Homo sapiens: one gene and its partners. The protein of the gene in region 1 interacts with the protein of each later gene in a pairwise test. Each region holds a gene or a part of one and is shown in the gene's direction. Other genes may lie near its edges.

Region 1 (3,500 bases):
TTCTTTTTTGTTTGTTTGTTTTGAGATGGAGTGTCTTTCTTCTTGCTCAGGCTGGAAGGCAATGGCGCGATCTCGGCTCACTGCAACCTCCGCCTCCCAGGTTCAAGCGATTCTCCTGCCTCAGCCTCCTGAGTAGCTGGGATTACAGGTGCCCACCACCACGCCCAGCTAATTTTTTGTATTTTTCGTAGAGATGGGGTTTCACCATGTTGGCCAGGCTGGTCTTGAACTCCTGACCTCAAGTGATCTGCCCGCCTCGGTCTCCCAAAGTGCTGGGATTACAGGTGTGAGCCACTGCGCCCGGCCTATATTCTTATAATAATGGACAATTTAGATAAAGCAACTTTAATACTTCTGTTCCATTCATACTGAAAATTGGCATGATGGTTTATCTTTTTTTCAAGTCATTGTTGCCAATAAGCTAGGCAACTGGCAAACATCATGTATGAAATTTTTTGGGCTTGACATACTTTCCAGTGGTAATTGCTTCTAGTGGTTGGCTAGGTGGGGGTATGAGTTAGAGTAGGCTCTGGGTATCCACAGGTTCTACATTCGCAGATTCAACCAACTGCAGATTGAAAATAGGGGAAAATAACCATACAATAATAAATAATAGTGCAAGTAAAATATACACTATAACAGCTATTTTACATAGCATTTACATTGTATTAAGTGTTATAAGTAAAGATGATTTAAAGTACATGAGGTAGGTTATGTGTAAATACTATACCATTTTATGTCAGAGGCTTGTGCATCCTCCCATTTTGGTATCTGTGGGGAGTCCTGGAACCAATTCCCAGTGGATACTGAGGGATGACTGTATGATATGTCTTGTTAACTTGACCAAGAGTGGTAGTAAAGCAAGTGTAACTTGATATCACTTAGCACATCCTGCTGTTACAATAAGGCTTACTCATGATTTTTCTGAATAACATAATTTATATTAAATGTCCTAAATACTAGCACTGATCAAGTTTAAGAGCATTCCTAGTGAAATATTTTCTTATTAATGCAGTTCCCTTCATATGTATATTTATTTATTTATTTCCTTCCTTCCTTCCTTCCTTCCTTCTTTCTCTCTCTCTCTCTCTCTCTTTCTTTCTTTCTTTCAACAGAGTCTTGCTCTGTTCCCCAGGCTGGAGTGCAGTGGCGCAATCTTGGCACACTGCAACCCCTGCCTTCCAGTTTGAAGCCATTCTCCTGCCTCAGCCTCTGGAGTAGCTGGGACTACAGGTGCCCGCCAGCAGGCCCGGCTAATTTTTGTATTTTTAGTAGAGGTGGGGTTTCACCATGTTGGCCAGGCTAGTCTCGAACTCCTGACTTCAAATGATCTACCCACCTTGGCTTACAGAGATTACAGGTGTGAGCCACCATGCCCAGGCTACCTTCATATGTATTTTTCTTTTCTCTTCTCTCCTCTTCTTTTTTATTTATTTATTTATTTATTTTTGAGACAGGGTCTGGTTCTGTCACCTAGGCTGTAGTGCAGTGGTGAGAGCTCTGCTCACTGCAATCTCCGCCTCCTGGGTTCAAGAGATTCTCGTGCCTCAGCTTCCCAAGTAGCTGGTGTTACAGGTGCATGCCACCACGCCTGGCTAATTTTTGTATTTTTAGTAGAGATGGGGTTTCACCACGTTGCCCAGGCTGGTCTCGAACTCCTGGCCTTAAGTGATCTGCCCATCTCTGCCTCCCAAAGTGCTGGGATTACAGGCATGAGCCACCGTGCCCGGCCCATATGTATAATATATTTCTTATCCCCCTCCCCGAGCAATTTAGCATAATCTTTGACCATTTTTCTGTTTTTGTCTTTTAAATTAGTTTATCTCAGCAATATTAATTAGTACTTACCATAATCAAAGGCTTGAATACAATTTGGAGGTCTATCTGGAGACTGGACAATTTATGAATAGAGATATAAGGGTTTAGGGAGTGGTGCCTGTTTAATAATGATTTCATTTTCTTTTTTTGCTTTTTTTTTTTTTTTGAGACGGAGTCTCACTCTGTCGCCAGGCTGGAGTGCAGTGGCGAAATCTCAGCTCACTGCAACCTCCGCCTCCTGGGCTCAAGTGATTCTCCTGCCTCAGTCTCCTGAGTAGCTGGGACTACAGGCGCCCGCTATCACGCCCAGCTAATTTTTTCTATTTTTAGCAGAGGGGGTTTCACCATGTTGGCCAAGATGGTCTCGATCTCTTGACCTCGTGATCCACCCGCCTCCATCTCCCAAAGTGCTGGGATTACAGGTGTGAGCCACTGCGCCTGGCCGATTTCATTTTATCATTCGATGCTTAAATGTGATATTTAAAATTAAGCATTTTGTATTAAATAGTAATACATTCTTCATGTGCTAGATTCAAACAGTAACTTTCTAAAGAAAAACTTGATTTCCCTTTCCTCCCTATCTCTTTGCAGAGCTGTAACTGCTCCTCAAGTTTGGTGTGTGTTCTACAGGCTTTTTTTTTTTTTTTTTTGAGACAGGGCCTCACTCTGCACCCAGGCTGGAGTGCAGCCACATAGTCTCGGCTCACTGCAACCCTCCATCTTCAGGCTTTCTTCTTAACCTTTCCTTGGCTTTAAATGTTTTTTAAATAAATCTGTACTTTCAAATAGACTTTACTTTTTGGAACTTTTTTCCCCCTAAGATGGGTTCCTGCTATGTTGCTACCCAGGCTGGCGTCAAACTCCTTGGCTCAAGCGATCATTCCCCCACTGACCTCCCAAGTAGCTGGGACCACAGGCACACGCCAGCACACCCAGCTGAAACATTTTTAATTTTTCAGAAACACTGAGAAGACAGTAGAGAGTTTCCATATGCCCTATGCCCAGCTTTCCCTATTAGCATCTTATATCAGTATGGTACGGTTTTCACAATTATTGAACCAATATTAGTACATTGTTATCAATTAAAGTCTGTACTTTGTTCAGATTTTCTAAGTTTTTACCTAATGTCCTTTTTCTGTTCCAGGATCCCATCCAGGATCCAGGATGATATAATGTGGTAATGTTACATTTAGTCGTCCTGTCTCCTTAGGCTCTTCTTGGCTGTGAGTTTCTCAAACTTTCCTTGTTTTTGATGAGCTTGACAGTTTTGAGGAGTATTGGTCAGGTCTTTGTAGAATGTCCCTCAATTGGGGTTTGTTTGATGTTTTTCTCATGATTAGACTGGGGCTGTGGATTTGGGGGAAGACCACAGGTAAAGTGCTGTTCTCATCACATCATATCAAGAATGCACACTTTCAACATGACTTATCATTGTTGACATTGACCTTGATCACCTGGCTGAGGTAGTGTTTCTCAGGTTTCTCTTCTGTAAAGATACGTTTTACCCCACTTTCCATACTTACTCTTGGGAAGGAAGTCACTATGCATGGTCCACACATAAGGAGTGGGGAGTTATGTAACACCTCGCTGAGGGCCAAGTATTGACATGAATTATTTGGAATTTCCTGCATGGGGCATTTGTCTCTGCTCTGATAATTTGTTTAGTATTTATATCTGTATAG
Region 2 (3,027 bases), on another chromosome or scaffold:
CCTGGCTTTGTCATTCATCGCGTGGGGACAGGTGCAGCAGAAGAGAGCAGACAGAAGCACAGGATCTCAATCAGGCTCTTGAATCAGACTGCCTGGGTTTGAATCCAGGCCCTACTGACCAGCTGTGTGACCTCAGACAGGCGACTCCGGGTCTCAGCACTCAATTTTCTAATTGGCCAACTGGAGATGACAATGGCCCCTACCTTGAATGGCTGCCAGGAAGATTAAATGAGAAAATACTTAAATGTGAAACACTTAGAATGGCGCCTGGAACACAGACCATTAATACCATCTAACAGATGTTAGTTGTTATCCTTATTTATTACTCATGCTTTCCTTTCTCTTTTTTCTTTTCTCTCTCTCTCTCTCCTTTTTTTTTTTTTTTTTTTTGTTGTTGTTGTTGTTGTTGAGACAGGGTCTCAGTCCGTCGGCCCAGACTGAAGTGCAGTGGCACAATCATAGCTCGCTGCAGCCTCGACCTTCCAGGCTTAAACGATTCTCCCACCTCAGCCTCTCGAGTTGCTGGGACCACAGGTATGCACCACCATGCCCAGCTAATTTTTGTATTTTTTGTAAAGACAGGATTTCACCATGTTGCCCAGGCTGGTCTTGAACTCCTGGGTTCATCTGATCCATCTGCCTTGGCCTCCCAAAGTACTGAGATTACAGGTGTGAACCACCACACCCGGCCAATACTCATGTTTTTCAAGCCTGTAAGAGGAACCTCCTAGCACTGTCCCCACCCCGGCCACCACACTGGTCCCAGCCCCAACAGGTCAGCTTCCTTTGCTGTTCCCGGGCTTCCCTCAGCTCTATCTCAAGCCATGACCTCTGCCTCCATGTCTGCAGCCCCATGAGGCTGGGGCTGCTCTGTCCTGCATATCTCCAGTGCCTGGCAAGGGGCTGGCAAGAGGTAGAGGCTCATTAAATGCCTGTTAAAACCCTAATAGTAATAATAATAATGGTACAGTTGTTACTAAGACTAATCACTACCTTCCAAAGTCTTTCCTCTATGCAAGGCACGGAGCTAAGCACCCTGTAGATCCTGACAACAGCCCTCCCGTGATCCCACAAGAGAGACACGATTCTCTCCAATGTTTAAAAAGGAAAGTAAAAGTCAATGGTTCTAAGTAGCTCACACTGAGTGATTGTACCGGGATTTGGACTCAGGCACCATCCCTTAAACCAGAGGTCAGCAAACTTTTCCCCCTCAGGAACAGATGGTAAATATCTTCAGCTTTGCAAGCCAGACAGTCTCTGTTACAAGCGCTCGACTCCCCCTTGTAGCATGAACACAGCTGTAGATAATACGTCCAGGAATGGGTGTGGCTCTGTGCCAATAAAACTTTATTGTCCAAAAACAGGTGACAGGTTGGTTTGGCTCATAGGCTGTAGTCTGCCACTTCCTGTTTTATTCTACCTTCTGTTCATTTCAGGTCACTGTGCATGGCATCATCCTGGCCCCCTCTAGAGCTCCAATCCTCCAACCAGAGCCAGCTCTTCCCTCAAAATGCTACGGCCTGTGACAATGCTCCAGAAGCCTGGGACCTGCTGCACAGAGTGCTGCCAACATTTATCATCTCCATCTGTTTCTTCGGCCTCCTAGGGAACCTTTTTGTCCTGTTGGTCTTCCTCCTGCCCCGGCGGCAACTGAACGTGGCAGAAATCTACCTGGCCAACCTGGCAGCCTCTGATCTGGTGTTTGTCTTGGGCTTGCCCTTCTGGGCAGAGAATATCTGGAACCAGTTTAACTGGCCTTTCGGAGCCCTCCTCTGCCGTGTCATCAACGGGGTCATCAAGGCCAATTTGTTCATCAGCATCTTCCTGGTGGTGGCCATCAGCCAGGACCGCTACCGCGTGCTGGTGCACCCTATGGCCAGCCGGAGGCAGCAGCGGCGGAGGCAGGCCCGGGTCACCTGCGTGCTCATCTGGGTTGTGGGGGGCCTCTTGAGCATCCCCACATTCCTGCTGCGATCCATCCAAGCCGTCCCAGATCTGAACATCACCGCCTGCATCCTGCTCCTCCCCCATGAGGCCTGGCACTTTGCAAGGATTGTGGAGTTAAATATTCTGGGTTTCCTCCTACCACTGGCTGCGATCGTCTTCTTCAACTACCACATCCTGGCCTCCCTGCGAACGCGGGAGGAGGTCAGCAGGACAAGGTGCGGGGGCCGCAAGGATAGCAAGACCACAGCGCTGATCCTCACGCTCGTGGTTGCCTTCCTGGTCTGCTGGGCCCCTTACCACTTCTTTGCCTTCCTGGAATTCTTATTCCAGGTGCAAGCAGTCCGAGGCTGCTTTTGGGAGGACTTCATTGACCTGGGCCTGCAATTGGCCAACTTCTTTGCCTTCACTAACAGCTCCCTGAATCCAGTAATTTATGTCTTTGTGGGCCGGCTCTTCAGGACCAAGGTCTGGGAACTTTATAAACAATGCACCCCTAAAAGTCTTGCTCCAATATCTTCATCCCATAGGAAAGAAATCTTCCAACTTTTCTGGCGGAATTAAAACAGCATTGAACCAAGAAGCTTGGCTTTCTTATCAATTCTTTGTGACATAATAAATGCTATTGTGATAGGCTAAATGATTACTCCCGTAGATTGGGGGGTACCTAATCCCTGGACTTGATGAATGTTACCAAATTAAGGGTCTTGAGATGGGGAGATGATCCTGAATTATCCAAGTGGGCCCTATATAATCACAAGGGTCCTTATAGGAGGGAGGCAGGAGGCTCAGAGTCAGGAGATGTGACTATGGAAGCAGAGGCCAGAGGAATTCAGGACGGCCACTACGAGCCAAGGATTGCAGGCACCCTCTAGAGGCTGTAAAGGGCAAGGAAATGGCTTCTCCCCTGGAGCCTCCAGAAGGAATGGGTCCTGCCAACTCCCTGTCTTCAGCCCAGGGAAACAGATTTAGGATTTCTGGCCTCCAGAACTGTTAGAGGATACATTTGTGTTTTGTTTTGCTTTGTTTGCTTTGCTTTGCTTTGCTTTTTTGAGATGGGGTCTCGCTCTGTCACCCAGGCTG
Region 3 (2,165 bases), on another chromosome or scaffold:
CCTTACATTTGAAATCTATGAAATATCATGCTCCATTGTTCAGATGCTTCTTAGGCCACATCCCCCTGTCTAAAAATTCAGAAAATTTTTGTTTATAAAAGATGCATTATCTATGATATGCTAATATATGTATATGCAATATATATAGGCTCTTGCTTGATCTCTCCAGGAGGTAGTGATTATGAGAAGGGGGTGGAGAATGATGAGTTCCTTCACCAGGAGCAAAGGACGGGGATCGTGTGGAACCACTGCAGAACTATTTCCGAAATCAACTAAGTGGAGAGAGCCAGGAAGGCTGCATCAGAACCCAGTAAAGCTTCTTGTCTGGATCTGAGCTGGTTTGTTTTGTGCTTGCTTTTCCCTGCCTTGCCACTCCCCTCACTCTTCTCTTTTCCCCACAGCCTTTTTCACATAGCTCTTGGCTGTAGGATTGCCCCACTCCAAAAACCAGTGTGTGGAGGTCCAGGAGTGAGACCAGGAAAGAATGTGAAAGTGACTACACAAGGACTCCTCGATGGTCGTGGAAAAGGAAAGTCAATTGGCAGAGCCCCTGAAGCCAGTCTTCAGGACAAAGAAGGAGCCTAGAGACAGAAATGACAGATCTCTGCTTTGGAAATCACACGTCTGGCTTCACAGATGTGTGATTCACAGTGTGAATCTTGGTGTCTACGTTACCAGGCAGGAAGGCTGAGAGGAGAGAGACTCCAGCTGGGTTGGAAAACAGTATTTTCCAAACTACCTTCCAGTTCCTCATTTTTGAATACAGGCATAGAGTTCAGACTTTTTTTAAATAGTAAAAATAAAATTAAAGCTGAAAACTGCAACTTGTAAATGTGGTAAAGAGTTAGTTTGAGTTACTATCATGTCAAACGTGAAAATGCTGTATTAGTCACAGAGATAATTCTAGCTTTGAGCTTAAGAATTTTGAGCAGGTGGTATGTTTGGGAGACTGCTGAGTCAACCCAATAGTTGTTGATTGGCAGGAGTTGGAAGTGTGTGATCTGTGGGCACATTAGCCTATGTGCATGCAGCATCTAAGTAATGATGTCGTTTGAATCACAGTATACGCTCCATCGCTGTCATCTCAGCTGGATCTCCATTCTCTCAGGCTTGCTGCCAAAAGCCTTTTGTGTTTTGTTTTGTATCATTATGAAGTCATGCGTTTAATCACATTCGAGTGTTTCAGTGCTTCGCAGATGTCCTTGATGCTCATATTGTTCCCTATTTTGCCAGTGGGAACTCCTAAATCAAGTTGGCTTCTAATCAAAGCTTTTAAACCCTATTGGTAAAGAATGGAAGGTGGAGAAGCTCCCTGAAGTAAGCAAAGACTTTCCTCTTAGTCGAGCCAAGTTAAGAATGTTCTTATGTTGCCCAGTGTGTTTCTGATCTGATGCAAGCAAGAAACACTGGGCTTCTAGAACCAGGCAACTTGGGAACTAGACTCCCAAGCTGGACTATGGCTCTACTTTCAGGCCACATGGCTAAAGAAGGTTTCAGAAAGAAGTGGGGACAGAGCAGAACTTTCACCTTCATATATTTGTATGATCCTAATGAATGCATAAAATGTTAAGTTGATGGTGATGAAATGTAAATACTGTTTTTAACAACTATGATTTGGAAAATAAATCAATGCTATAACTATGTTGATAAAAGATTTAAAAACAACTGGCTGTTTTTTTACACTGTGGTGTGGAAGATTGTGTTGTGTTCACAACTTTTCACTTCTTCCCCTGTGTGATTACACACACCTGCCCTTGTGGTGTGACTTGCAGTGCGCCCTACAGGCCACACACCCCACGCCCTCCACCACTGGCTCTGCTGCTGGAATGTGAGCAGAAGTGACATCTGCCTCATCCAAGCGGAGCCTCTTGCTCAGCCACAGGAAGGCCCATTCCAGATCACACCCGTCAGCCCGTGCGCCCTGGTGAATGAGAAGACACAGGGAGCTGCAGCCACATATAACATGAGCAAGAAGTCTGTGTTTGCTGTGATAAGCCACTGAGTTTTAGGGGTTGTTTGTTAAGAAGCACAAAAACCGATTAAGACATGTGGTATATAGTGACTTCATATATAGAATCTGGAAAACTATCCATTTATTTTCAATCATGGAATTCAATATGACAAGCATCCCGGAGGGTCTACCTATGCCAGACTGGGTTGGAAAC
Region 4 (3,500 bases), on another chromosome or scaffold:
ATTTTAGAGAAAGCAGTTCTTGGACTGAGCCCAGCATGAGTTCACCCCAGCCCCAGCTGGGTGAACTTTGAGGCCCAGTGGGGCAGACTCTCTCCTCCCCACTGCTGCTGCGGGACTGGGCTTGGTAACGTCCTGTCCTGCCCCTGTCCTCCACAGGCATTTTTGGCTTCCTGGCCTTTGGCTTTGTGCTCATTACCTTCAGCTGCCACTTCTACGACTTCTTCAACCAGGCTGAGTGGGAGCGCAGCTTCCGGGACTATGTGCTGTGAGTGAGGGGCATGGAGGCGGCAGTGCTGGGAGCTGGAGCCAAGGCCATAAAGACACCCACCTCCACCCACCGGGCAGCAGGGATTTGCCAGGTCCCTGCTGCAGACAGCAGATTCAATGGATGGTGTCTGGGTGCATAAGGCATCAGTCTCCGTAGTTTCTCAAACGTGGCAAACAACCTTCGCATCCCTTCTCACCTCTGCCCTTCCCTCTCCACCCCCTTGGTTGCCCAGCTGGTGCATGTGTGACTGTTAAGCAGCCAGTTCAGCTTCGTCTTCTCTGACTGACACTAAGTTGCCCTCTAATTCTGTGTGCTCTCCTGCAGAGCCTGCTTTAGATCCTGGCACAGGACTAGTTACCTCTCTGTGATAGGTTAATGACCTGCTAATGTTGGCTAGTTTTTGCCTGTGCTTTTTTGTGTCATAATGAGGATGGATTGGAGAGAGTAAGACATTGCTACTGCTGAGAGAAGCGCAGTACCCACTGTTACAAGGACAGTCGCTAAAATGGATGCTAGTCCAAGCCCTGACTGCTTCAGGCTCTTCCGTAAAGGTTCCGGCTTCCAGTCTGGGATGCTTTAAACCACAGTGATGCCTGAGTCTCTGCCCCAGAGATTCAATTTAATTGTCTAGGGTGGGTCCCAGGCATCAGTAGCTATTAAAAGCTCCCCAGTTGATTCTAATGAGCACCCAGGGTTGAGATCAGTGCTGTGGAGCTTAGCCCTTTCTAAAGTTTTTGGATTGATTGTCTGAGTCTACCCAGTAGACTCAGAAAACCCCACCTGTAGTCCCAGCTACTTGGGAGGCTGAAGCAGGAGATTGCCTGAGCCCAGGAGTTGGAAGCTGCAGTGGGTTGTGATCACGCCACCGCACTCTAGCCTGGGTGACAGAGCAAGATCCTATCTCAAAAAAAGAGAGAGGAAAAGAAAGGAAAGCCTCACCTGTCTACGTTCCCTCACTGTAGATGTCAGGCCAATGTGACCATCGGGCTGCCCACCAAGCAGCCCATCCCTGACTGTGAGATCAAGAATCGCCCGAGCCTTCTGGTGGAGAAGATCAACCTGTTTGCCATGTTTGGAACTGGCATCGCCATGAGCACCTGGGTCTGGACCAAGGCCACGCTGCTCATCTGGAGGCGTACCTGGTGCAGGTGGGCATGGCAGCCAGCCCCTCCTGCCCTGCCCGCCTCACCCTCAGCCTTGGGACCCCATCTTTAGGTTTTGTCGGGTCCTGCCTCTAGCACAGCCTTGGTCAGTGGTTCACCGCTGCCCCCTGGTGGCACCTTCTGTCCTTGGGTGGCCTGATGCCTGGGCCTGGGCCTGGGCCAAGGGCAGAGCCAGCTGCCATCACCTTTTAAGAGCGGAGTGATTGGAGGGCTGGGCACACAGGAGCTCTGCATTCTGGCCCCACTTCTTTGCAGAGAAGGCCTCTACTCCTGAGTCCTTGAAGGACTTGAGGCCCTTGGGAGCCTCCTTCTCTGGAAAGAATGGCATCGCTGGCCCTTCCCAAGATTTGATGGGAAGTGGCAGCTTCTTCACGCTCCTTCCCTATCCCTTCTGCTCTCAGGTTGACTGGGCAGAGTGACGATGAGCCAAAGCGGATCAAGAAGAGCAAGATGATTGCCAAGGCCTTCTCTAAGCGGCACGAGCTCCTGCAGAACCCAGGCCAGGAGCTGTCCTTCAGCATGCACACTGTGTCCCACGACGGGCCCGTGGGTGAGCCTCACCCCTCCTCTACCGGAGCCGCCTGGCCCCGCGCTGCCCATGTGCTAGTCTCTCCCAGCCTGCTGGGGGCACACAGATTATTTGGAAGACCGACTGTGAGGAGCAAGGCGCTCCCTCCATCGCTCACACACCCATTCTTCCCCCGGCCCCTCCTACCCTCTGGGGGGCTCTCCCCTCTCTGTTTCTGCCCCTGGGTCTGCTTGCCGGTGCTTGGGTTCCAAGAAGACTCCCCTCCCTCTCCCTTCTCATAAATTCTCCAGTTGCTCTCCCTGGGCAAGAGTAAGTCAGGGTTCCAAGAACTGGATTTCTGGCCTCCAGTTAGGCCCTTTGGGGACGTGAGGCCCTTCTCTTCAGATTCTGAAGGGGTAGAGATCACCGTGGTTACAGGGTGAGCTTTCTCTGGTGAGCAGGAGGGACTGGCTGTGGGAAGATGAATGGCACTGACTATGGGAGGCACTGCCAGGGACCGGGAAGTCACTATTCCTTCTCCTTTCCTTCCTTCCATTCCCACAGCGGGCTTGGCCTTTGACCTCAATGAGCCCTCAGCTGATGTCTCCTCTGCCTGGGCCCAGCATGTCACCAAGATGGTGGCTCGGAGAGGAGCCATACTGCCCCAGGATATTTCTGTCACCCCTGTGGCAACTCCAGGTATGAGAGTTCAAGCTTCTGGAGGAAGGTGGGGGGAGCACAGAGGCTGGGGGCTTCTGGGACTGGAGTACAGGGGCTGTCGGAGGAGGAGGAAGAGGAAGGAAAGGCCCCAGAGGATCTGAAGAGTGGGGCTGAGGCTCTAAGAGTCTAGAGACCTGGGCCCCAGAACTAACAGGTTAAGTGCTCCCAGGGGAGCGGGGGTGGCATGGACAGAGCCAGGGCCCCAGGCTCGTGTTGTCTCTCCTCCTGTCAGTGCCCCCAGAGGAACAAGCCAACCTGTGGCTGGTTGAGGCAGAGATCTCCCCAGAGCTGCAGAAGCGCCTGGGCCGGAAGAAGAAGAGGAGGAAGAGGAAGAAGGAGGTGTGCCCGCTGGCGCCGCCCCCTGAGCTTCACCCCCCTGCCCCTGCCCCCAGTACCATTCCTCGACTGCCTCAGCTGCCCCGGCAGAAATGCCTGGTGGCTGCAGGTGCCTGGGGAGCTGGGGACTCTTGCCGACAGGGAGCGTGGACCCTGGTCTCCAACCCATTCTGCCCAGAGCCCAGTCCCCCTCAGGATCCATTTCTGCCCAGTGCACCGGCCCCCGTGGCATGGGCTCATGGCCGCCGACAGGGCCTGGGGCCTATTCACTCCCGCACCAACCTGATGGACACAGAACTCATGGATGCAGACTCGGACTTCTGAGCCTGCAGAGCAGGACCTGGGACAGGAAAGAGAGGAACCAATACCTTCAAGGCTCTTCTTCCTCACCGAGCATGCTTCCCTAGGATCCCGTCTTCCAGAGAACCTGTGGGCTGACTGCCCTCCGAAGAGAGTTCTGGATGTCTGGCTCAAAGCAGCAGGACTGTGGGAAAGAGCCTAACAT

The links. The genes of interacting proteins can lie anywhere in the genome.
Region 2: the proteins of NDFIP1 (region 1) and BDKRB1 interact in a two-hybrid assay, tested with the Homo sapiens proteins (one large-scale study listed by BioGRID and IntAct).
Region 3: the proteins of NDFIP1 (region 1) and CCR2 interact in a two-hybrid assay, tested with the Homo sapiens proteins (one large-scale study listed by BioGRID and IntAct).
Region 4: the proteins of NDFIP1 (region 1) and SMO interact in a two-hybrid assay, tested with the Homo sapiens proteins (one large-scale study listed by BioGRID and IntAct).

What each region holds. Positions count from the first base shown.
Region 1 is NC_000005.10:142,115,279-142,118,778, forward strand, and holds part of NDFIP1 (NEDD4 family-interacting protein 1), read left to right. Parts: intron 1-3,500. UniProt on the Homo sapiens protein: Activates HECT domain-containing E3 ubiquitin-protein ligases, including NEDD4 and ITCH, and consequently modulates the stability of their targets. As a result, controls many cellular processes.
Region 2 is NC_000014.9:96,262,237-96,265,263, forward strand, and holds the end of BDKRB1 (B1 bradykinin receptor), read left to right. Parts: exon of another isoform or gene 1-375; intron 376-415; 5' UTR 416-534; intron 535-1,436; 5' UTR 1,437-1,446; coding exon 1,447-2,508; 3' UTR 2,509-2,527; downstream 2,528-3,027. UniProt on the Homo sapiens protein: This is a receptor for bradykinin. Could be a factor in chronic pain and inflammation.
Region 3 is NC_000003.12:46,359,276-46,361,440, forward strand, and holds the end of CCR2 (C-C chemokine receptor type 2), read left to right. Parts: 3' UTR 1-401; coding exon of another isoform or gene 402-585; 3' UTR 586-1,665; downstream 1,666-2,165. UniProt on the Homo sapiens protein: Key functional receptor for CCL2 but can also bind CCL7, and CCL12. Also transduces signaling mediated by CCL13.
Region 4 is NC_000007.14:129,209,133-129,212,632, forward strand, and holds part of SMO (protein smoothened precursor), read left to right. Parts: intron 1-156; coding exon 157-265; intron 266-1,230; coding exon 1,231-1,416; intron 1,417-1,832; coding exon 1,833-1,981; intron 1,982-2,503; coding exon 2,504-2,638; intron 2,639-2,891; coding exon 2,892-3,319; 3' UTR 3,320-3,500. UniProt on the Homo sapiens protein: G protein-coupled receptor which associates with the patched protein (PTCH) to transduce hedgehog protein signaling. Binding of sonic hedgehog (SHH) to its receptor patched prevents inhibition of smoothened (SMO) by patched.